3 separate regions of the Homo sapiens genome follow, and all the other regions are reported to be linked to region 2. Evidence: microRNA targets listed by miRTarBase, many of them from high-throughput screens and not tested one by one. Region 2 holds a microRNA gene; each other region holds the end of a gene's coding sequence.
Evidence for each region. The annotated mature microRNA hsa-miR-4276 reads CUCAGUGACUCAUGUGC and lies in region 2 at 4,482-4,498, opposite strand. An mRNA with a match to its seed (bases 2 to 7 or 8) in the 3' UTR can be bound and repressed. Matches are read on the target gene's strand: a 7mer-m8 pairs with bases 2 to 8, a 7mer-A1 pairs with bases 2 to 7 and ends in A, and an 8mer does both.

Region 1 (8,109 bases), not on the chromosome of region 2:
TAATTTATTGGTATATATTTTATGTTAGGAAATGATAACATAGACTAGTATCTACATATATTTTATGAATTCATGAATACCTAACTTTTTAAATATTTCTAGGCTACACGGTCTGTGAGTTTTTTCAAATTGTTACAAATCTTCAAAAATTTTTACAATATACTTGTCAAAAAAAATCCACATATAAGTGAACCCATACAGTTCAAACCTGTGCTGTTCAAGGATCAACTATACTTTACTGACTCTGTCTACTCAAATGCTAATCTCATCTGGAAACACCCTCACAGATATACCCAGAAACCATGTTTAATCTGGGCACCCCATAATCTACCAAAGTTGACACAAAATTAACGATCACAGACCTATATATATGCCCAGATGCTGCTGGGCATCTCCACCTGGATGGTTCACAGTCACCACAAGCATTGTGTGATCAGAGCTCATTTGGCCATCCTTTCTAACCTGGCTCTCTCCCTGCTCTGCTGCCCCCCACGAATCTGCTTCTCCTCTTCTTTGTCTCTATATCAGTTAAATAATTTACCACAAAGTTTTTCCAAGCTAGAAGATCCAGAGTCATTTTGAGATAATTCCTTTCCCCCACCATTTCAAAACAAGCTAGTATATAGATCTTATTAGTTCTATTATAGCTCTGAAATATGTTTTAAAAGCTATCCACTTCTTTGCCCACAAGCATTTTTCACCTAGACTGTTACAACAGTCTTTTAATTGGATTCACAGATCACTCTGCCCTTCATCATGCCAGTCCATCCTCAACAAAACCACTAGTCATTCAGGTTACCAACCCAAAGCATCTCCTTTGCACCCTCAGGGGCCCAAGCTAGCCAGCTAGCCAGGAAAGGACAGACTAGTCTGGCCTATGGGAAGGATTTTAGTTCCATGTCTTGGCCATGCTGGAGTTGTGGGCAGAGGCAAACTGACAACTCAAGCTTAGCTTCTGCCGATTAAAGACTTCCTCTGGCAGTGAGGAGGGGTTTGGGCTTAGCACTCACTCATCACTGGGATAAGCCTACCTCCTGTGACAAACAATGGGCATGATAACAAGAGAGGGAGGCATGAGCCTGGCAACCCAAACTTTCCTGCTGATTTGGGGTTTGTTCTTGGGGATCTCACCAGTAATCTCATCTTATCAGCTCTTGGCATCTTAGGATCATGTAACACCTGGACTGATCTGGTTCTCTCCGGGTCATGTGTAGCATCGAAGGTGTTATTTTGGTTTTAAAAGCATCTTCTCTGAGGTTAATCATATGAATGCCAAGTTTTCTGAAATATTCTACATTAAATAGGAGAAAGGAGTGAGTTATAAAATGAAAAGAAAGGGAAGTTATCATGGATTAGTTTCAGCTCAGGAATGGCAGGTGGTGAGACACCTCTAATACATCTAATGTGGAAACGGGTGAAGAACACTGGCAAAGACGGGTGTAACTTTACAACCCTGCTCCTGTGCCTAGTAATGCTCCAGGTCTGTCTTAAGTCCAAGTCTGTTTTACTGTTAATACTCCAAGTCTGTTTTAATGGATTCCAAGTCCATTTTAAATCTCTTTCAGCAAAACTAGTGCGAGTTCATTTCTCTGCCTCTTGGCTCTAGTTTGCTTAACAGATAAAGGCCAAGCTCTTCCAGCTCAGGTGAGACGTCCTGTCCTTTGACTCCCCTGGGCTCTTGTAGAATTCACAGTAATCTGTCACTGGGTGTTGTATGTATAGACCCTTCTCATTATTTGTGGATTCTACATTTGTGAATTCATCTACTCACTAACACTTATTTGTAACCCTCAGATCAATACATGCAGTGATTTTATGGTCATTTTTGGGCATTTTCAGAGTGTCAACAAATGGGAGTCACTGATGTGAATGCACATTCCCAGCTGAGGTCAGTGTGCTCGCTTCCTTCTTGTTTCGGCTCACATACTATAAATGTGCCCTTTTTACAGTCTATTAATTGCCATTTTTTTCAAATTTTTGTGCTTTTGGGTGGTAATTTCACTTTCCAAATGACCCCCAGATGTTGCACTAAAGTGCTGTCTAATGTTCCTAAGTACAAGAAGGCTGGGGGTATGCCTCATGGAGAAAATATGTATGTTAGATGAGCTTCGTTCATGCTTGAGTTATAGGGCTATTGGTGTGAGTTCATTGTTAATCAATCAACAATATAGTACATCCAGAAAAGGAAGTTCACCAATATGTACATGAGGCTGTTCTGGAAAGTGCTGAAGTGATATTTATAGTGCATGAAGAAACTATGGAAAAGACAGAAAAACAGCTAAATTTGTGGACTCATAAAATGACAACTGATTTTTAAAGTGTAGTAAAAAGAGTACTGTTGAGAGGCTGAAAGCCCAAGAAATTTACAGTTATGTTACCCAGCATCAGGGAAATGTTAAATCCTTCTCTGCTAGGGTTTTATTATAAAGAAATACTGCAGATAACTAACTTATAAGAACTATATATTAAATAAGGTGTCTTAAACAGAAACACAATAAAACAAGGTTATGTAGTGGTGGGTTGACAAAAATATTGTGACCTGAGGCTCACAGGAACCTAATCCTGTATTTCTGCTAGGAGCAATGGTTCAGTATTCACTAATTCAGTGTTTGCAACAACTTTACAGAAAGGAACTACCACAAACAATGAAAATTGACTGTATATCACAGTTTCTGCCCCCACATTATGTCTTCTTTGTATTAACGCCTCTGCCTACTTGTGTCCCACTCTTATTCACTGTTGAATAAATGTGTGCTGAGTGAATAAAAGTCTTATGCAAGCAAGTTTTCTGCAGAGATACAATATTGCTGGGAATTTTGAGCCTCAGCTGTGCACCAGAAGGATATAAACTAGGTGACATCTAGGAGGCTGAAGAGTGGGATTATTAAAATGAAAGTAAACACTGTCTTTAAGAAAAACTACAAGGGATATAGTCTGCCTATGGAATGTCAAAAATTGTACATCATCAGTTGTTTAAACTTCATGACTTTGCAACATTCCAGTGTCACAAGGTCAGGTGTTTATTCACTGCTTGTGCAGTCAGCACACATTGACTTTGCGTTCGTATCAGAATGTGACACTCCATTTGGTTGGGGTCTGTTTTAAACCTTTACATTTATCTTCCTGAGAAGGAACCATATGTCCAGTTTTTCTGTAACCAAATATCAAAAGACACAGGTGGAACAATTTTATGTCTAAGAATTTCATGAAGAGTGTTTGGAATAATGTAAAAAACTTTTCTTTCCTTTTCAAAGTTCTTTTAGTTGACAAATAATAATTGTACATATTTGTGGGGTACATAGTCACTGCATGTTTTGATACATATATGGTGATGAGATCAGAGTAATTAGCAAGAATCACCTTTGAATTCATATGATCCATACTCTCAGGACATCTGTAGCCTGCGGCTGCTAGAATGACCATCACATTCTTTTCCTTCATGTAGAAGAGAAAAAGCGCCATTGAATTCCCCCTTTGCCTACTATGAAAGCAAAACTTGCAAGTAAGAGGGGAAGGTGTGCATGAGATAAGAGAGCAGAGTTGGGACAACTTTTGTAGGGGCATACAGTCTTCTGGGCTTCTGTGGCTTTGGAAGCCTGTGCCTGAGAATGTTTGAGAGCCCCGGCTTTCTTAAGGGCTCTCTGGGCTGATATTTAGAAGAGATGCTCAGATTTCAAGGGTAGAAGGGAAGAGATTTAGAGTCATTTGTGGCTACTTTTCATGGTCTAGTAGTGCGGCTGTAAGTCATTTCATCATATCTTGATTTCTTGTCCACTTAACAAAAATAAAATGTAGCTAAAGAGTTTACTAAACCTTTGATAAAAATATTATGAATATGAAAAAAATTATGAATTATAACTTCTAGATTTAAGGACAATGAAATTTAAGAAAAAAAAATCCCCACCCATCACTTTAATCCCTTAGATCCAGGTTAAGGCACCCAGCCTGATAGTGAATGTCTGTTGACAACAACTTCTTTGTATTTGAAGACAGTATTGACTACAGATGGTACCAAGGAGTCAAAGTCATGGCAGGCTATCTTGGGAGAAATCTTCCTCATGAAGCAAATTTTCCATTTAAAGATGAAGCATGAAAATCAACATCTATTTTATAGAAAATAGGAAATATTTAATATATATAAATTTATTTGCCTTGGCAATTATTTATTTACAATTGATGATTGATATCAACAATTGAGGTAAAAATATACATGAGGTATAAATATAATATTTAAATGCAATATCATACTTTATTTCCATTGGCAAGATAACAATGAATAAAATACTGTGGTATTTGACAAACAAGCTTGATGCATCGTTTTTTCTCCTTTTTTTCCCTTTTCCTTGTTTTAAAAAGATGCACTGTGTTGTTATGCAGCGGTGATATGATTACTATGTGCACAAAAACAAAAAAGTCAGATAATTCGAAGAGAGGGAGAATCAGAAATACAATCACATTTGTTCTTATTCTGTTTTAGGGATCTTCTAGGTCCTCGTTTCTGAGTGTGGTTTTAGGCCAGCAGCATAGGCATCCCTGAGACTCCTTAGAAATGCAGAATCTCAGGCCCAGCCCAGATTACTTGGAGCAGAGTCTGCAGTTTCACAAGATCCCCAGGCAATTCATGTGCATGTGAAATCTGGACAAGCACCTCTCTGGGCGATACAAAGCCACTCATCCTCGTGTGCCTATCACGTTTTCCAAACACATAGGATCCCATCTCAGGAGCAGGACCAGTGTTTAGCTAGATTAAACTTCACTGGTGATCTTGTTGATGCATATAAAGTAATCTGGCATATATGGTTAAATTCAAGATGTTATGGCAGAAGTGACTTTGTTTTGCTCACAAAGCATTGCCCAAAAGGTAAATTATGGATTTACTGCTTCCTTCTTAGGTAGATATGGGAATGAAAAATTTCTAGGTCATAATTCAAACTGTAAGATTTTCCTCGCACCATACCAAACTCATAGAAAGCTTTTTTATTCCTCTCAATAAAATAATTGCACATTGCTGATAACAGAAACATTACATAAATGCATATAATGCAAAAAAACCTGAAAACACTCATTTGCTTTTCTTTTTTTCTCCAACACCAGTTGCTAAATCTTATCAATCTCTATTATGGATGACCAAAGAAAATCTCTCTCCCTGAAATCAAACACACAATAAGTTATCTTTCTCTCTATAGCTGTTGAATTACAATAAAAAGCACATTCGATCCATTAGCAGTTGGCTAAAGGGAGTCAATTCGCTTCATCTGTACAATAATAAATAAGGTTGGGTCAAATGCATAGGTAGCTTGGACTGGCTAGTGAAGAAACACAGAAGAATTAATAAACCCGATTATACTATCTAAAACTAATCAAAGAACATAGTTTTGGTCTCATGTTAGTTAAAAACCCTGTCTTTCAGATTGTAAAAGTTTAATGAATTACATTTTAAGAGTATCCTACACATAACAAAATATGAATTCCCTGAAGCTGTAACGATCTAGGATTTGAACGGAATGGCCATCATCTCCCTTTGTATGGTGTCTGGAGTTGAATTCAGTGCAATAAGAAAACACCAATTAACTGTGACCAAATAGGCCACTGGTCAAATAGAATGACATTTAATAACATTATGAAATGTATTTATAAAAACTTGAGACAACACAGGGGCTCCCTTTGGCTGTGAAGAAGTAAAGGCTATGATATTCATCTTGACTTGGGGTCTGTAGTGATGGGCATGGGAGCGAGAGGTATCGCTTCTGTTTCAGTCACTCTCGCTGACTCCGGTGGTCCATATCTCACTGAAATTCCATCTTACTGGGCCCAGTGGCAACTCCTCATCTAGCTTTAAATTTGGTAATGACTTCTCACCCCCCCATTTGCTTTAAGGAGGAGTAATTATTATTTCCTTGCTTTATCCCAGATCTCCACTCTCAGTTTTTGAATAGCAGAAACAAAGCGTTAACACATAAGTCTCCTTTAATGTTATTTTCCTTTGGTTAACTCATCTTTGGTTAGGCATCAGGGCATGTTCACACCTTGGTGTTAGCAGCAGGTTCTGCACAGCTTACAGGACAGTGGAGAGATGGGGCCCAGAGCCACTTGGAAAGAACTGTGTGAGGAAGGGACTCACTGAGTCAGACACCGTCATTTTCAAAACACACAATTCTATATAAAATTGGTATTTTACATATATACAGTAAAGATGGAGATATACACACATATGTACATATGCTATACATACATTTATTTACAGTTAGGTATACGCTTCTTAGAAGCCTTTAAATAGCAAATTAGGCAATGCACAAGGAATAGTCCATTTAATTTTAAGTAATATATATAAAGTTCTCATTTTAAAATTATATTAGTAGGGATGTAGCCATCTCCAGGAAGGCTAAGAAAGTTCTTGGAAATTCTTGCATCTCCAACATTCCAACTTCTTAACGTTTCCATTTTTAGGCATTAACCGCGTCCTTCAGTTCCTCTTTCTCTCGCTTTCTCACATGCACACTCTCTGCCACACTCGTCACTTTAGCTTCCTCTTCCCTGAGTTTGATGTCACACTGGGCAAAACTCAGATTTTAGTTTCTGGGCCCTCAGCAATGAGGGGCTGGAAAGAGTTTCTAATCCTGGCAACTTCTGCTGCACACAGATGTCCAAAGCCTTTGCTGTACCATTCTGGGGAGTGACCTCTGTGGGGAAAGAAATCAGAAAGGAAGTGGGAAAGTTTGTTTCCAAATCACAGCAATTAGTTTTGGTGGACAGGGCTGCCCTTGGGCCCCGATGACCAGTGAACCTGCAGACAGCTCGGGCTGCTGCCTTGAGGGGCTCAGGACGTCATTCTGCCATCAGGGGCCTTGAAAACGTCCTGGCTGCTAAGTATTCATGTTGTCATTTGAGTACTCATCAGGTGCTTTAAAATGATACCAACATCTTGGGGTAAAATGAAAAGATTCAGATGAAATCCAGAATTTACTGTGAAAACTCCGTTTTGTCTACCCAGACCAAGAACTGGGTTTAGCATCATGAATGCCTTGAAGGGGTTGGATGTAAGTTACTTACTTCTCAAAGAACTACCAGAGGGAGCAGCAAAAGGGGACAGGCATAAAAGAAATACATGGTCGAGCACGGTGGCTCATGTCTGTAGTCCCAGCACTTTGGGAGGCTGAGGTGGGCGGATCACCTGAGGTTGGGAGATTGAGACCAGCCTGGCCAACATGGCGAGGCCCTGTCTCTACAAAAACATACAAAAATTAGCTGAGTGTGGTGGTGGGCAGCTGTAGTCCCAGCTACTGGGGAGGCTGAGGAGGGAGGATCACCTGAGCCCAGGAGGTGGAGGTTGCAGTGAGCCCTGATGGTGCCACTGCACTCCAGCCTGGGTGACAGAGTGAGACCTTGTCTCAAAAAGAAACACAAGAGAGGGAAACTCTGATTTACTGAGTACCTACTATGTGTCAGGCTCTGTTTCTGGTGTGTGTTTCATGGGAGAAAGACAGAAATATAAGTAGGCATAAAACAGAAAATAAAGAAAGACAAACAGTTGCAGGAGAAATGTCAGAATTTCAGGAAAGGGGGAAAGACAGAGGGGAGGCATACATATCCACCTATGAAAGCACACTAATGGCAATGAGGAAACAAATACAGTGAAATAAGAAATCAGGGTGACATCCCTGCTGGATGTGCTGTACAAGCTGAGACTCCCAAGATCTGAGCCTGCCATTAAGGGAGTCAGCACTTACTTCAGGTCTATCCTGCAGATGTGAGTCAGTCTTGACTTGCCAGAGCCACACGGTTCTATCAAGTACTGCGAGTCCATCACCACTGCTCGCACACCACCCAGGAGCTGGGCTTCCTCATGCTCCACGGAGAGGGACACCAGGGTACACATTCCTTTGGGCAAATCAGTTTTCCAGGTCCTGTAGCAAAACAATCCGCACATCAGAGTCATGACTGAGGGAGGAAGAAGAACCTGAACACAGAGCTAAGGTTTGTGTTTATATTTTCCTGCCAACAACCTGGGCTCAGATTCCAATGCTAGTGACTTGGATTAAGCTAATGGCTTTCATAAGCTTGTGTAAAGTTTATACAGAGAATTTCAAAGCAAGGATCTCAGCTCTGGGA
Region 2 (8,109 bases):
CTCCAGAAGGCCAATTACAGAACCAAAACTGCAAAGGGGAAGATTATACACCCAAAACACCATAGGACTTTGGTCATTTATAAATGCACAAATCTTAGGAACAGGTAAAGAATTTGATTTTGAGAATGCTCGCAAAACAAAGAGGAATAGTAGGATTCAAGTATTTACTGCATAGTTGGACTATCTTAATTAGGAAGGCATGTTTAATAAATCAAAACATTCACATGAGTACAAATGTCTTTGATGAATGACAAGATCAAAACTATGCCTACAAACTGAAACTTAAGTAATACTGTAGTAGATTCTTACAATGTTATGTTGCATCACGATCCTTTCAAAATATAAGTTGGACTTACACTAGAAGCAGAGCTTAGTCACCCCTGACACAGTTTCCAGTTGCCCACTTTCTCCTAATTCTTTAGTGTGGTTGATCCAGATATCTACCTTGCACAACGACCTCCTAGGGAACACCTTCCTGTAGGACAGCTATATACCACCTACTTGAGTTGCTCTCTGACCCTGCCTGGACTGTTCATACATATATGGCGCAATGACCATCTCTCAGTCACAGTGTAGACTACATGCAGCTCGTGCCTGCTTCCTCTAAACCCACAATTCAAAAACTCTATCCCATGTTCTATGGGAAATCTAGTACCCTTATCAACATTTCTGAGAATTCCTTGGGGTTCATATCTTCATGGTTACTCTGGCTCTGCCTGCCTGCCTCCACTAGACTACTGATGTCATTGGCATCTGATCCCCTATAACTATTCTCCTGCCCTCTGCTCTGTGACAACCAGGACATGAAAAGCAACCTTATTCCTCTGAATAACCTATAAACAGCTCACCCATAATATTTGTTCATGTGTTACATTTACCTTATGATTTGAAATGATACATAAATGTATTTACATGGCCTTTGAAATTTTAAAATTTAATATTATACTTTCTCACTGTTTACATTTATTTGACCTGCCTTCAATAATCTCTTACTGTTCATTTTCCTCCATGGATATTTGCTCTGCTATGTTACTCGGCCATGTCTGTTTCTTTCTCCTCTCTTCTTTCTTACTCTTTTTACTACTTGTTTTTTTTTGAGTCGGAGTCTCACTCTGTCCCCCAGGCTGGAGTGCAGTGGCACAATCTTGGCTCACCGCAAACTCTGCCTCCCAGGTTCAAGCGATTCTCCTGTCTCAGCCTCCCGAGTAGCTGGGATTACAGGCATATGCCACCATGCCCCAGTATTTTTATATTTTTAGTAGAGACGGGGTTTTACCACGTTGCCCAGCCTGGTCCCAAACTCATGACCTCAAGTGATCCACCTGCCTCAGGCTCCCAAAGTGCTGGGATCACAGGCGTCAGCCACGGCGCCTGGCTACGACTCTTTTTCTAATATTTGTTCATCACTTTCACAAAGAATATAGCTCTTCTTCATTTTTATTTTCTTATAACCCATGCTGTTAAGTTTTCACATTATACTGAAATATAGTTTCTCACGTTAGTTTACAAACAAGACGATTCCTCCTCGTTAAAGGAACTGTTAAGCCAGATGGTGAAAGTCTTTGCATCCAAGAGTCCTGAGCAGCTGAGGTATATGAATAACAGCTGCCTGAACCCAAATCTCCTCAAACAACCTCTAAGCAACAAGAATAAAACCACACAAAATTCTCACCTTTGGCAAAATTAGAAGACAGAAAAATATTACAAGTGAAAATTACCCATAGGTATAAAAATAAGCACCAAATTCCAGCATAGCTAACTTTCGAAGCTCTTCTGAAGTCATTCCCACAAAGAAAAGGGGTTCTGAAAAAATGCACAAGAAAGATAAGGGACAATTGAGTTAAAGCCAACCCCAGGAAGAGATAGCTCAAAGAGTCCTGATAATAATCCTGGTGATGGATTATTAATCATTGAGTTCTCTAAGAATCAATTAATCCATCCAAATCTAAATAAATGAACAAAAACTAAATTAGTACTGGGGGAATCTTATCCCTTTAAGTGGAATGTCAGCTAATAAATGTAGAAGGGATGGTAGACTTAGAAAATCACCATTTTGGAACTATTACAATAAAAATTGATGTAAGCAAAAATTATCAATGAGTACTTAAATGAGTAGGTCAAAGTTTGGGGAATAAAGAAGATTTAGGTATCTTCAAAGTATCTCTCCACAAATTAATTATAAATTACTAAGGGGAAAATAAAAAATTTGCAGTGGAAAAACCTAGCAGAACCATCTTAGCCAATCAATCGTAGCTAACATCACCAATCATGGGACAGACCAGCATCATGTTGCCTGCTGATGTGATGTGCTGAGAAGAGTACAGTCTCATGTCTGTTTCCCTATCTGACATGCATGACCTGGTTCTAAACAGAGGAAATATCAGACAGACCCAAACTGAGTGACATTCCACAAAATAACAGGTACTCTCCAAGCTGCCAAGGTTATAAGGGAAAAGACTGAGGATTTAATCTAGATTAAAAACACTCCAGGGACATGATGATTAAGCACAATTCTTACCACTGAGTTAAATTTTAGACCAGGAAAAAAAACACAGGACATTGTTGGGATAATGGACTAAATTTGAATATTGGCTCTGGAAGAGGTATTCCTATTATATAAATGGTATATATATTTTTTTACTCTGGTAATTTTACTAGTTATTCAAGAGAATGTGTTTTTCTTAGGAAACACACACTGTTCGAAAGGTTAAAAAATGTTTATTAAGAGAGTAAATGATAAAGCAACCAGAGCAAAAATGTTAATAATTTGTGAATCTAGGTAAAGAATAAAATGAGGATCATTTGTTCTATTCGGATAATCTCTCTGTAAAACTTGAAATTATGGTAAAATAAAACGTTTAAAAAATTCTTGTTCTACTTTATTAAAAATAGAAAATTCTGATATTTTCCTTTTAAAAAAATAATCTCTGAAGTTAGATAACTGGAAACAAAAATTTACAAAGCTTCCCCACAGATCCTTATGAAATAAGTTTATGGTAGAATTAAACATATCCAGGTAACTCAATCTTTTGCTTTTAAGCCAAATTAATTGAGCCAAAAACAATACAGAGCTCTTAAAACATTTTGTTGATTTTTGATAAATTAAGTTGTCCCAGTATTGCCAAAATGTTTACAACAATAATACAACAAAACTGGCCAGGCACAGGGACTGACACCTGTAATCCCAGAACTTTGGGAGGCCAAGGTGGGAGGATCACTTGAGCCCAGGAGTTCAAGACCAGCCTGGACAACACAGTGAGACCCTGCTGTGATTGCACCACTGCATTCCAGCCTAAGCAACAGAGTGAAACCCTGTCTCCAAAAAAAAAAAAAAGAAAATAAAAGAAAAGAAAAAAAATCATAAAACTAACACTCTTCAGTCATTATATGATTTTCATTATTGAAGTTTTATATTTGCTAAAATACCTGTTTTTATTGATCCATCTAGTATTAATAGGTGTAACTGCAACATGTCCTTTTGTTTATGAGCTTAAAAATATAGCAGAAACTACTATAAATTGAGGATTTACTTATGCTAGGTATGGTGTAAGGAAAATTTTAAAAATAGCATTCTGTTTTTTGATCTTAAAAAATCCTATAGGTATGATTAGTACTTTATCTATTTATAAATAAGGAACTGAAGATAAAGAAGGTAAAGAACTTAGACCTAACTTCACACAGTTTGTAGTTTGTAACTGGCAGAGGTGAGGTTCTAAACCTAGTCAACAAGGCTAGAAAGCTAGTAGGTTTCCTAGCACCCTATGTAGTACATATGCTTGCTAGTACTATTAGTAATTCCAATGATTTTTACTTTGGGATTTGGCAAAATCTCTCAGGATAAATAATTCAAAATCATCAATTGTTAAGTAATTTTCCTAGATGAATTCTTGGAATCAAGATGATAGTCTGCTTAACATACGATTCCATTATCTTATCATGTCGGACTACAGCCTGGCAAAGGTACACTGCTCTGTTGAAAAATAATTTTTAAATATACTGTTATTAATCTGGAAGAAACTGCAATGTAGGAGATCTAGAAATAGATAATATTAATTTATTCTGAAAAATTAAAAGGACAGACTTGAGTAACAGACAAAATTTCCAAATAAGCAGATCTTGATTTTGAAGTTCAGGTTTTTATTCTATTTTAATTAAAAATCTAATAACAAAATCAAAAAACCCAGAAACAAAATCCTTGCAAATATTTTTCGTTTTGAACTTCTTTTTTATTACTATTATAATTTTTTGTTGTTGTTTTTACATGCAGAGATAGGGTCTTGCGAGGCTGCCCAGGGTGGTCTCAAGATTCTGGGCTCAAATGATCCTCCCACCCCAGCCTCCCAAAGTACTGGGATTGCAGGCATGAGCCACCACACCCAGCCTGTTTTGAAATTCTTTAAGTTTTCATATGAGCTGTCAAAAAGGTTTCTAGCTACCCATTGCTTTCAGACACAGTAGCTCTATTTACGTGGCCACTGCCAGCACATGAGTCACTGAGTCAGACTGTGACATGCCCACAGCATATCCCATTATTTAACTCATTGACTCAAGGAACACATAAGAAAAAATACACAGTCTACAAATTAATCACTTTAGCAAAATTGGCTTTACACATATTCCAGGATACGTGCATGATTAAGCAAGCTATATTTATGTCAGCAGAGAACTATAAATAGAATATTTATTTAGAGTCATCTTATCTAAGGAGATGTCTAATTTTTGTTGAATTTACACCTCAGATGTCAGACTCAACAGAAAAACAGGCAAGACATGCAGTTTTGTTTTATCTTCCTCCACCAGCCCCAATGCCAAATGTCACATGACACACACACATATACACACACACACACACACACGCAAAAAGGTTGTATTTCTCCGGTAGTCAGAATAGCAATAGCGAATTCAATGGTTCTATGAATGTCTGGATCATGTTTTGGAAAGAAGTAACACTTCTGCAGAAATTTTGTTTCCCTGTTTCTCTTAGATTCAAAGAGCTGGCAAACTGCCAAATCGGAAATTCTGCAAACTGGAAGTGCAAATTGTGTTATTTGTATTGTAATCTTTAACATGTGTCATTTCAATGATTCCCAAATCACACTATGAATCAAAATTAAAACTAAAAATGCAGGTTTTGATAAAATAGGATTCAATGGAAATGTAAAATTACATTTTAGCACAGTGTCCTCCATTGAATATGTTTCCTTCTTTCCCTCTTCCTCTTTTCAGTTTAGTCTCACACAGGTTTTAGATTTTATCTGAGGTTTGAGAGTAAAGTGTTGCATACCTTCCAAAAAGCTTTTGCCTTATTTCCAATTATTGCAATGCAATATTAGATAAGAATCCAAATAAGTGTGATTTATGGGTATTGTTACATTTATCTGGAAAAAAATGCAAACTTAAAAGTGTTTGACAGGGCTCACCACATGAGAAACATCTAGACCCTTCTAGCTTGTCAAAGAAATGGAAGACAATTGAAAGAGTTTGTAGTAAAGCGTGGAAAGGACCAATTTAATGATTTTGTTAAAAGAAATGAAAACAATTATGTCATTATAATATTACTGCTATAATATTATATGTTATATGTTGTTATAACAGAAAAAAGTCAACATCTTTCATCATTCATTTTTGAAATTAACTTCTGTCATACAATTGAACATTTGTTTTTGCTTCCTTTTTTTTCTCCAAATATTTGGGTTTAGTTGAGGTTCTGGAAAAAACTTAGTGTTTTACTTTAGACTAAATAAGCTTAAAATTCACTCAATATCAGCATAAAAACTTTTACCGGAACATTTTGCATAGGACCATATTCCTGTTTTCCATAAATTTAATCTACTAAAATCTAAGAGCCAGATCAGAATTCTTTTTTTGGCAGGCGAGCTTAGAGAAAAATTAAAACAATCAGATTGTTTTCTTGAGTCTCTATAAGCATACCTCCTCTGCACAGTGAATTGAAAATCCTTTTGCTTCCACATCTGATAAATAATACAATTAGTAACTCTAATAATTTTTATTTTTGATGGAATGAAAATGCAGTCATCACTTTGTGAATTTTTTTTTTTTTTTTTTTTGAGACATGGTCTTGCTCTGTCCCCCAGGCTGGAGTGCAGTGGCACGATCTCAGCCCACTGCAACCTCTGCCTCCTGGGTTCAAGCGATTCTCCTGTTTCAGCCTCCTGAGTAGCTGGGGCTACAGGCAGCTCCTGTGCCACGATGCTGGCTAATTTTTGTATTTTTAGTAGAGACAGGGTTTTACCATGTTGGCCAGGCTGGTCTCAAACTCCTGACCTCCAGTGTTCCACCCACCTCAGCCTCCCAAAGTGCTGGGATTACAGGCATGAGCCACCGTGCCCTTCTGCTTTGTGAAATAATTTAAGTGAATTCACATGCATGCAACTTCTCCCATGTGTGAAGCAAGTCAAACACAAGAAACATGATCTCCACATTCTGAACAGTAAATGGAATGTGAATATGGAATGAACAAATGTAATTAAACACTTATTCACTGGAAATGGACATATAATGACAAATATAAAAAGAAAAAATATGTAAGAATAATGTACCTGTACTCAAACTTGTCCTTCAGGCAATATTGTGAGAAATTTCTCCACTAAACCCAATGAGGAAACTGAAGAAAGTAAAATATTAGCATCCAATTTTCTTATGAGTTGATTCAATAAGCATTTACTAAATTCCATACAAAGTTTAAAATAACAATTCCTGCAGTCCTAGAGCTCTCATGGTACAGGAGAGAGAAATGTACACAGAAATTTACTGGTGTGGTGAGTACCACAACTTAGATGCTGACAGAGTACAGTGGGAACACAAAAGTGGAAATATGTAATCATGCACACAGACATCACAGAATATTTCATAAAGAAGGTAAATTTTCAGTTGAGTGACATATAATTACAAGGAACTCCCTAGACGGTTGCAGGGGAAAGTAGTTGCAAAGATATGGAAGGGAAAAAGAACATATCGTATTTTAGAAGATTTCTAAATGTTTTAGCACATGTGGAATATCTGGAGTATAAACAGAGAGGGAATAACTTTGCCCATTAAAATAAGGAATTAAGAAGCCACCATTATTTTTATTGTTTTTTGTTTTTTTGCTGTCAAATTAATTTTTCATCTTTGGAAATTTGAAAATGGGGAAAACATAGAGAAGAAAATTAAACCTACTTCAAATTCTGTCAGCAAAGAATTGTGTGGCTTGACTACATGCTTTATTCCACAGCCGTGCTTCTAACAGCCTTGCAGTGATACTGATCTGAGGCCATGGGCAGCAAATGAGACTGTCCCCCAAGTCAGCTGGGACCAACGATACTTCTCCCAACTGTCACCAAAATGTTCTCCACTTATTTTCCACAATGATGCATTCTTTTCTCAGTCTTGGTGCCTTCTGGATAATTAAATTTTCCCTAGATTTGGATGATATTTCCTTGATTTTATGGTATGTGATTGTTGTTTTCTACTCTTGGCACCAGTAAAGGTAGTTCTCTTTTTTATTATTATTATTTCCTATTGTTTTTCTCCTAGCGTATGACCACTTGTTGAAAAAGGGTTTTGCTCTTAAAGGAAGCTTTGCCAGAAATCCAGAGCACATTTTCTCCTTTAGTTCAGGATTATACATGTAAGTGGCACTGCTGGGTCAAGCAAGAAGTACTATTGAAAGGGTTTGGTATAGAGGCAAGTCGCTTTCTGAAAAAATGTCAATTTTCATGCCTATGATGGCATGTGAGATGCCATTTTCTAGCATGCTTACCGACAATGGGTGTTATCTTTTATTTTTGCAAAGAGTTGAGGGATTTTGAAGAATCATGGTGATAAAATCAGCATTTAACTTTCTTGCTGTCACTCTTCCCGCAGCGTAGAGGATACGCTGAGCATACAGGGTATGGTCTGGTTTGCAGGCCAAAAGATAAGGTAGGTGGTTTGTGAAATAATGTAGATGAGAAAACATAACCAAGGAAGTGGCAGGAAGAAGAAGAGAGATGGAAAAAAATTTGAGAGACAGGAAGGAAATATAAATATAGTAACCAAGAACACGTTGCTAAAGGGGGCAATAAAAATAATTCTGAAAATCGCTGGTCTCTACAAAGCACTGTACAC
Region 3 (8,104 bases), not on the chromosome of region 2:
TGCAAATTATGGTCCTAAACCCTGAGCTTTCTGGATTTTCGATGATTAGTAGGTAGATAAGAGACTTGCAAAGAGGTAGATTTGTAAGAGGCTCTTAACCAGCATTTTCAGCAATCCATCTGACCTCCCATGCCTGAATTCTCTCTCTCAGAGAGCTGAGCTCCTTTGCCTTTTTCAGTGCAGTTATAATAACATTCCAGTCCCACATGTGATAGAGAAAAGATCACCACCTTCCTTATCAGTAAAAGTACCTTCCAGGTTTAGAGGAGTAACCAGTGTGGCTGGAGGTAGGAAGCTCTCCTGGGCCGCTCTTGTCGGGCGGAAATCACACAGTGGTTGGTGCGGTGCCTCCTCGCTTACCCGAACTGCAAAGAAATCCCAAGCACAGGCCGGGCGCGGTGGCTCATGCCTGTAATCCCAGCACTTTGGAAGGCTGAGGCAGGCGGATCACGAGGTCAGGAGATCAAGACCATCCTGGCCAACATGGTGAAACCTCGTCTCTACTAAAAATACAAAAATTAGCTGAGTATGATGGCATGCGCCTGTAGTCCCAGCTACTTGGGAGGCTGAGGCAGGAGAATCACTTGAACCTGGGAGGCGGAGGTTGCACTGAGCCGAGATCTTGTCACTGCATTCCAGCCTGGGCAACAGGCAAGACTCTGTCTCAAAAAAAAAAAAAAAAAAAAGAAAGAAAGAAAGAAAAAGAAAAAAGAAAAGAAAAGAAATCCCAAGCACAAAGCCCTGGAAGAAAACTGACCATGAGGCCACACCCTGTGGGTGGAGCAGGTTGAAGCAAACCTCCTGCCCCTATTTCAGATCCCTGCCCAGCAGGGCACCAATAACGATGCAGTCTCCATTCTTAAACATCTTTCTAGGTGACATGGGCTGGACAAGCATGTGGTGAGCCGGGTTCTCATTGCCTCGGGCACTCACTCATGCTGTTAGCTCCATGAAGTCAATACCTTTACCGTCTCCTTTACTGAGGAGGGAACTGAGGTGCACAGGGAAGCAGAATAAAGTGCCCATGAGCCCTGGGTACTAAGGAGCCAGGCTCAGAGCTGCCTTCATGAGCACCAGAGATGCACACTCTTCCCGTGGCCAGAGCGGCACCCCAGCGGGAGGCCCCAGTCCCTTCATTCTACATTGCCGGGTTTTTCAGTTGCAGAAAGCTCTCCCCACCCTTGCTGGACCAGAGTGGCCTGAACTTGGCCAACCTGGTAGAACTCAGGCTGACATAGAACAGCAGGACACTCCTGGTCCCGGGGATTAGAAGTTGTTCTAAGGAAAAGATGCCCAGGTCAAAAACGTTTCCAGAGCACCTGGCTCCGTGCAGCCACCCCTGCGTCTGCTGCAGGGCCTCCTGTGGCGCCCTTCCTGGGCGTGCACTGCGACCCTCAAATAGGAGCTGCATGAGGGAGGCCCAGGGTTCTGTTTCCAAATACGTTTCTTCATCCATCTTTTTCCTGAACCGAAGTTTCTCACATTCACACTTGAGGAAATGCTGACAGAAAGGGAGTTCTCTGGGTAGTTTAGATATCTGGTGGACATGTGAAGTATAACTAGAAAAATGCATTCCTTCTATACTTCTCATGTGCCTGGACTCCCAGAATGTTTGACTAAAAACAGAGTCATGCACAATGGAAATCTCTCTTTTTCTGAATGAGCTAGCAAAGAAATACAAACCCAAAATATGTCTGGCTGTGTCTCTCAGCCCAATCGAATGGTCACGAGCAGCTGGCCCAGCAGAGCCCTGAATGCTCTTTTATGTTTGCCTTTTGACTCCCAAGGACTTGTCTGAGTGACCCTGCGATTATTTTCCCTCCTTAGGGGAAAAGTATGAATTGCACGCAGCGACTGACACCACTCCCAGCGTGGTGGTCCATGTATGTGAGAGTGATCAAGAGAAGGAGGAAGAAGAGGAAATGGAAAGAATGAGGAGACCTAAGCCAAAAATTATCCAGACCAGGAGGCCGGAGTACACGCCGATCCACCTCAGCTGAACTGGCACGCGACGAGGACGCATTCCAAATCATACTCACGGGAGGAATCTTTTACTGTGGAGGTGGCTGGTCACGACTTCTTCGGAGGTGGCAGCCGAGATCGGGGTGGCAGAAATCCCAGTTCATGTTGCTCAGAAGAGAATCAAGGCCGTGTCCCCTTGTTCTAATGCTGCACACCAGTTACTGTTCATGGCACCCGGGAATGACTTGGGCCAATCACTGAGTTTGTGGTGATCGCACAAGGACATTTGGGACTGTCTTGAGAAAACAGATAATGATAGTGTTTTGTACTTGTTCTTTTCTGGTAGGTTCTGTCTGTGCCAAGGGCAGGTTGATCAGTGAGCTCAGGAGAGAGCTTCCTGTTTCTAAGTGGCCTGCAGGGGCCACTCTCTACTGGTAGGAAGAGGTACCACAGGAAGCCGCCTAGTGCAGAGAGGTTGTGAAAACAGCAGCAATGCAATGTGGAAATTGTAGCGTTTCCTTTCTTCCCTCATGTTCTCATGTTTGTGCATGTATATTACTGATTTACAAGACTAACCTTTGTTCGTATATAAAGTTACACCGTTGTTGTTTTACATCTTTTGGGAAGCCAGGAAAGCGTTTGGAAAACGTATCACCTTTCCCAGATTCTCGGATTCTCGACTCTTTGCAACAGCACTTGCTTGCGGAACTCTTCCTGGAATGCATTCACTCAGCATCCCCAACCGTGCAACGTGTAACTTGTGCTTTTGCAAAAGAAGTTGATCTGAAATTCCTCTGTAGAATTTAGCTTATACAATTCAGAGAATAGCAGTTTCACTGCCAACTTTTAGTGGGTGAGAAATTTTAGTTTAGGTGTTTGGGATCGGACCTCAGTTTCTGTTGTTTCTTTTATGTGGTGGTTTCTATACATGAATCATAGCCAAAAACTTTTTTGGAAACTGTTGGTTGAGATAGTTGGTTCTTTTACCCCACGAAGACATCAAGATACACTTGTAAATAAAGCTGATAGCATATATTCATACCTGTTGTACACTTGGGTGAAAAGTATGGCAGTGGGAGACTAAGATGTATTAACCTACCTGTGAATCATATGTTGTAGGAAAAGCTGTTCCCATGTCTAACAGGACTTGAATTCAAAGCATGTCAAGTGGATAGTAGATCTGTGGCGATATGAGAGGGATGCAGTGCCTTTCCCCATTCATTCCTGATGGAATTGTTATACTAGGTTAACATTTGTAATTTTTTTCTAGTTGTAATGTGTATGTCTGGTAAATAGGTATTATATTTTGGCCTTACAATACCGTAACAATGTTTGTCATTTTGAAATACTTAATGCCAAGTAACAATGCATGCTTTGGAAATTTGGAAGATGGTTTTATTCTTTGAGAAGCAAATATGTTTGCATTAAATGCTTTGATTGTTCATATCAAGAAATTGATTGAACGTTCTCAAACCCTGTTTACGGTACTTGGTAAGAGGGAGCCGGTTTGGGAGAGACCATTGCATCGCTGTCCAAGTGTTTCTTGTTAAGTGCTTTTAAACTGGAGAGGCTAACCTCAAAATATTTTTTTTAACTGCATTCTATAATAAATGGGCACAGTATGCTCCTTACAGAAAAGTTGTCATTTTATTTCTAGAATAAATCTGTGAACCTTCTAAATTCTGCAGTTTAAAAGGCTTTTAAACCTTTTTAAACATTTTAAATTCAGAAGGAGACATCCTTTGTCAATTTGAGCTTAGAAACTCCTAATTCTGTGCTGTGGTTCATGGAGAGTCCACCACACTAAGAATGCATCACTTGCAAAAGAAGAAAATGGATAAAACTGAAATCAGAACTTCGAGTATTTCGTTTGTACAGGTAGATGCTACTGTGATGAAACCCCTGTTCACCAGCACCTCCACAAAACAGCAATGGTTTTGGTCATTTGAAGAGCTTTCTTTTCTATTAGAAAAGATGTCCATGGAAGATACTAAGTTATCTTCAGAAGATGCATCTGTAAGCCTTCTGTTTAATCTCTGGCAGCTTTTCCCCTGAAAGTCTCATTTCAAATGGTGGTGACCTTCCTGGGAAGCCCACAAAGGCCTAAGTAACCCAGTGTTTATTTGCTGAAATCTAGGAAATGACATTAATCCTGATCAACATTAGCATTAGGCGTTTATCTATGAAAATTCACATGCTACTTTTTTTTCTCTGTCTTGAGAACCATGATCCTGTCATTTCCAAGAGTATTTGCACATTTTCAAGCCATATATGTTCAAGGTTTAATCGTGCTGGAAAATCCACACTTCCACCAAGTTGGTCAAATCTGATTATTGGACAGATTCAGGCATTGACCCCCACTAAGGACAGGCAGGAAATATTTCCAAATAGAGACTCTCAACAGGTCCCCTTAGATAAAGGAGGGAAAAAGTCAGTGGTCCCACTGCCAGTGAAGCCAATAGACCTTAGAATAGAAAATACAAGTCAAGGAAAAGGCTCACTCAGGACAGCCTATTTCTTCTGAGTTGTTCTGTGGAAGCCTCAGCTGAAATTGTAAAACCAATAATGCACAAAGTTTCTGGTTCCCAGGCTGATGGGCCTGAAAGTAATTGAATCATGAATGTGCCCAGGACCCACGCATTGCTTTGTAGGAGAGGGGTTCAGTCAAATGTGAAACAACCGACATTCAACAGGCAGCATCATGCAGGATGCACACTTTGCCATTGATTGAAAGTGTTTCTTCAATAGGCTTTGATAGAATATGTTACTAATCTGATGGGAAACAGCTTAGGGCCATGCAAAAAAAGAAAATCAGCCCCTGGAAATGAGTGGCTAAATCAAAGCGAAGGGCAGTAGAAGGAGAGGAGCGGAGCAATTCATGGAGCTATTCAGACACAAGCTATAAACATTGATTTGAAGTCAGCAGGCATTTGGGATTTTACATTTCCAGAATATTGTGTGTGAATTACTGCCCACAGAAGATTTGGGTTTTCAGAGAGCTTTAATTTTCTGTGAAATGTGCAGAACTCACTACAAAATAAATCGATTTTCTCATATGTTAAGTTGCAGGAGATTAAAAGCACTCTATGGACGTGTTATGATCAAAAGTGAACGCGCAGCCAAAGTCTGTCACACTTCACAGTGCCCGTAGAACCCGCAGAAAGTTTGCCTGGGTATCATAGGTACATATCCAGTAACATTCACCCAAAGGTCAGTGACTCAGGTGGAAGCTGCATACATAATTACCCTAAAAATTATTCAGGAAGAAGGTCCACTATGAATAACAAGTACTCTTCCCTCCTGCCTCTCTGGCCTCCTGATTCTAAAGTAGAACAGGGAGTAGAACGTGGAGGAAACTTTTCAAGTATATCACCACTCTTGGCAATCCTTAATTCACATCTGAAATTCTCACTCCGTGACTCACCGAAAGTTACATGGCAATCAGGTAGATGGATTTGCTTCTCACATACCTCATTTTCTTCCACAATCCTTCCCTGCTGTTCGTGAAAGGTCATTTCAATCATAGCTATGTTTATGAAAGACAGAAGGAAATTATTCACAAGTGATTGAGGTGTGCTGCCTGTGCCCACCGTTTCTCCTTCTTTCAGGATTCTGATGAGGGACTCGGTGACCCTTCTACACAGCGAACGAGTGCCAAGTAGATGCAGTGGCCACTGCTCAAATCCCTCTTTCAAGAGTGTCAGGGCCCTCCTGGCTGACATTTGTACTCTGGCAGCGCAGACTTTTCAGTGTTTTTAACTTACCATGTTGTCTTTTCTCTGCCTAGAAAATGATCTCATTGTCCCAGCCCAGCCCTGCTAACCCCACAATGAGGTCCACGAGGTCCTGCTCACCCCTGTTCAAATTCCAGCAGCTACCTCTGTGCCCAGCCACAGAACATGTTTCTAGGGGCTGCTTTTCTTTTCTTGAGTGGCCCTAAGCTGTTTCTTACCAGATTAGTAATATATTCTATCAAAACCTACTGAAGAAACACTTTCAATCAGTGGCAAAGCGTGCATTCTGCACAGTTCTGCCTGTTGAATGTCGGTCATTTCACATTTTACTGAACCCCTCTCTTACAAAACAACGTGTGGGTCCTGGGCACATTCATGATGCAGTGACTTTCAAACCCATCAGCCTGGGAACCCAGAAACTTCTTGCATTATTGGTCACAATAAGCGCTACTGAAATGATTGACTCTTTAATATTTCTCCTGCAGGTGTCTATTAGGAATGTCTCTTCCCCCTAAGAATCGTTGCCAGCTACTCCCGCTGGGTCTCCCATCATGCCCCCTTCTTTTCCATTGTATGGCATATTTTCTTTTTTATCGTAATTGTTAAATTGTTTGTCTTCCCTGTTGAAACATAATTTGGGTGGAAGTGGGATTCCTGGTAGCCAATGGCTCATAGTAGACGTTCAACACGCAAGTGGATTGGATAGATGGAAGGATAGATGGGTAGATGGAAAGTTGGATGGATGGATGGATGGATGGATGGATGGATGGATGGATGGATGGATAGGGATTTTGGAGGAAGAGGAGTGAGCAGTCACTGAAAAGAATAGAAAAATAATGAGGCTTGCTCCCTCTCCCTAGTCAGAAGAGCCAGTAAGCAGCTTAGAGCTTTAATCCCACAAATTGTCAGGCAGCTGGCGCAAGAACAGGGAAAAAGAGAGAGAGAGAGAGAGAGAGACCCTGTCTGTGGTAGGTTATGGTCATCAGTGAAAAAGAACAAAAACCTTTGTTTTAAAACTCTCCTCAAAACAGATGATTGGCTAGAGGGTGCGGCACAAAGGAACTTGTCAGGGTGATGGAGACATTCTGTATCTGGATTGAGCAATGCAAGAACCTGGGTAAAGACACAGTCATGGTAACAGCTGTATACATCTGTTGAAAACTCATCAAACTTATCATATTTAGAAAGGGTACATTTTGCTTCATGTAAAGTATGCCTCAATAAAGTGTACTTGATTTTAAAATCAGGATAAAGGAAAAAAACATTGATCTTGGATAATGGGCAGGGGTTGGGGAGAAGGTCTTAATTATCATCATATCCTTTTAAAAACGTTTTTCAAGTGTGTGATGCTCTGATGACATTCTTAAGACACAGCAAGGCAAAGCAGTATCCCAAATGAGAGAGTGAGCATTCCAATAAATATTTTCTGTAAGACACTGATATGTCTATGACTATTTGCTAAATTTAAAAATCAACTTGGACCATATTTACTCCCTTAAAGTCTAATAGACGACTAATTTCTTCTATGTTCAGAACAAATATGTTGCTACTTTAAGAACAGCATACATAGGTGTGGTCGGCCCTCTGTGTCTAAGGCTTCTGCATCTGTGGATTCAACCAACAATGGACTGAAAATATTCCAAAAATAAAATAAAATTAATGAAACAACAACAAAAATAAAACAAATAAAAAAATGCCAGGTAACAACTACTTACAAAGCATTTACATAGTATTAGGTGTTAGAAGTAATCAAGAGATGATTTAAATCACCATCTATGATTGGCTGATATGCATAGGTTATATGCAAATACTATGCCACTATATATAAAGGACTTGAACATTCGCAAATTTTGGTATCTGCAGGGGATTCTGGAACCAAACCCCATGGATACCAAGAGACAACTATATATAAAATACTGAAAGAGGCATGGAGAGTGATTTTCAGGCCTCTACCTAAAGCCCTGAATATTAGAAATTACTGAATTTCTTCTCAGGAAGGAAATTACGCCATAAACCAGTGTTGCCACACACCCAGAGAACAAGATGACCCGACGCCCCAGCCTGGTCATGCCACATGAGCTGAGCAGTGGGTAGGCCACTGAGCCAGTGATAGAAATCACAAATTACAAAACGTCAGAGTACTTTCTGGAAATAAGCCTTCCTCTCCAGGGAACAACGCATTTGACACTTGACTGGGATACACTACCGGATCCTCCGAGGGTGATGGTTCTCAAGAAGGCAGAAGCAATGGTGACCAATAGACCTCCTTAAAGGCTGAGCCGCTGGGCACCTTCCTACTCCTCTCGACCGTGCTAGGATGACTGCAGCAGAGTCCCCGAGTCCTTTGATGCAAGGGTCTAGGTGAGTTCGAAGGAGAGCCATACTAGGCCAGGCAGAAAGGCCCATGG

Region 1: the mRNA of STARD13 is a reported target of hsa-miR-4276. Seed matches in the 3' UTR shown: 7mer-A1 at 5,544-5,550.
Region 3: miRTarBase lists RCAN1 as a target of hsa-miR-4276. Seed matches in the 3' UTR shown: 7mer-m8 at 2,217-2,223.

The regions. Positions count from the first base shown.
Region 1 is chr13:33,099,031-33,107,139 of GRCh38, forward strand. STARD13 (StAR related lipid transfer domain containing 13) reads right to left here. Exons shown (of 14, transcript NM_178006.4): 13 at 7,728-7,904; 14 at 4,107-6,680. The coding sequence ends at 6,563. Among named protein-coding and RNA genes, the nearest start is that of KL, 87 kb to the left of the region's middle.
Region 2 is chr4:174,420,194-174,428,302 of GRCh38, reverse strand. It overlaps MIR4276 (microRNA 4276), which reads right to left and starts at 4,508; the gene lies at 4,439-4,508.
Region 3 is chr21:34,511,980-34,520,083 of GRCh38, reverse strand. RCAN1 (regulator of calcineurin 1) reads left to right here. Exons shown (of 4, transcript NM_004414.7): 4 at 1,828-3,642. The coding sequence ends at 2,000. It overlaps KCNE1 (potassium voltage-gated channel subfamily E regulatory subunit 1), which reads left to right and starts at 7,874. Exons shown (of 4, transcript NM_000219.6): 1 at 7,874-8,057.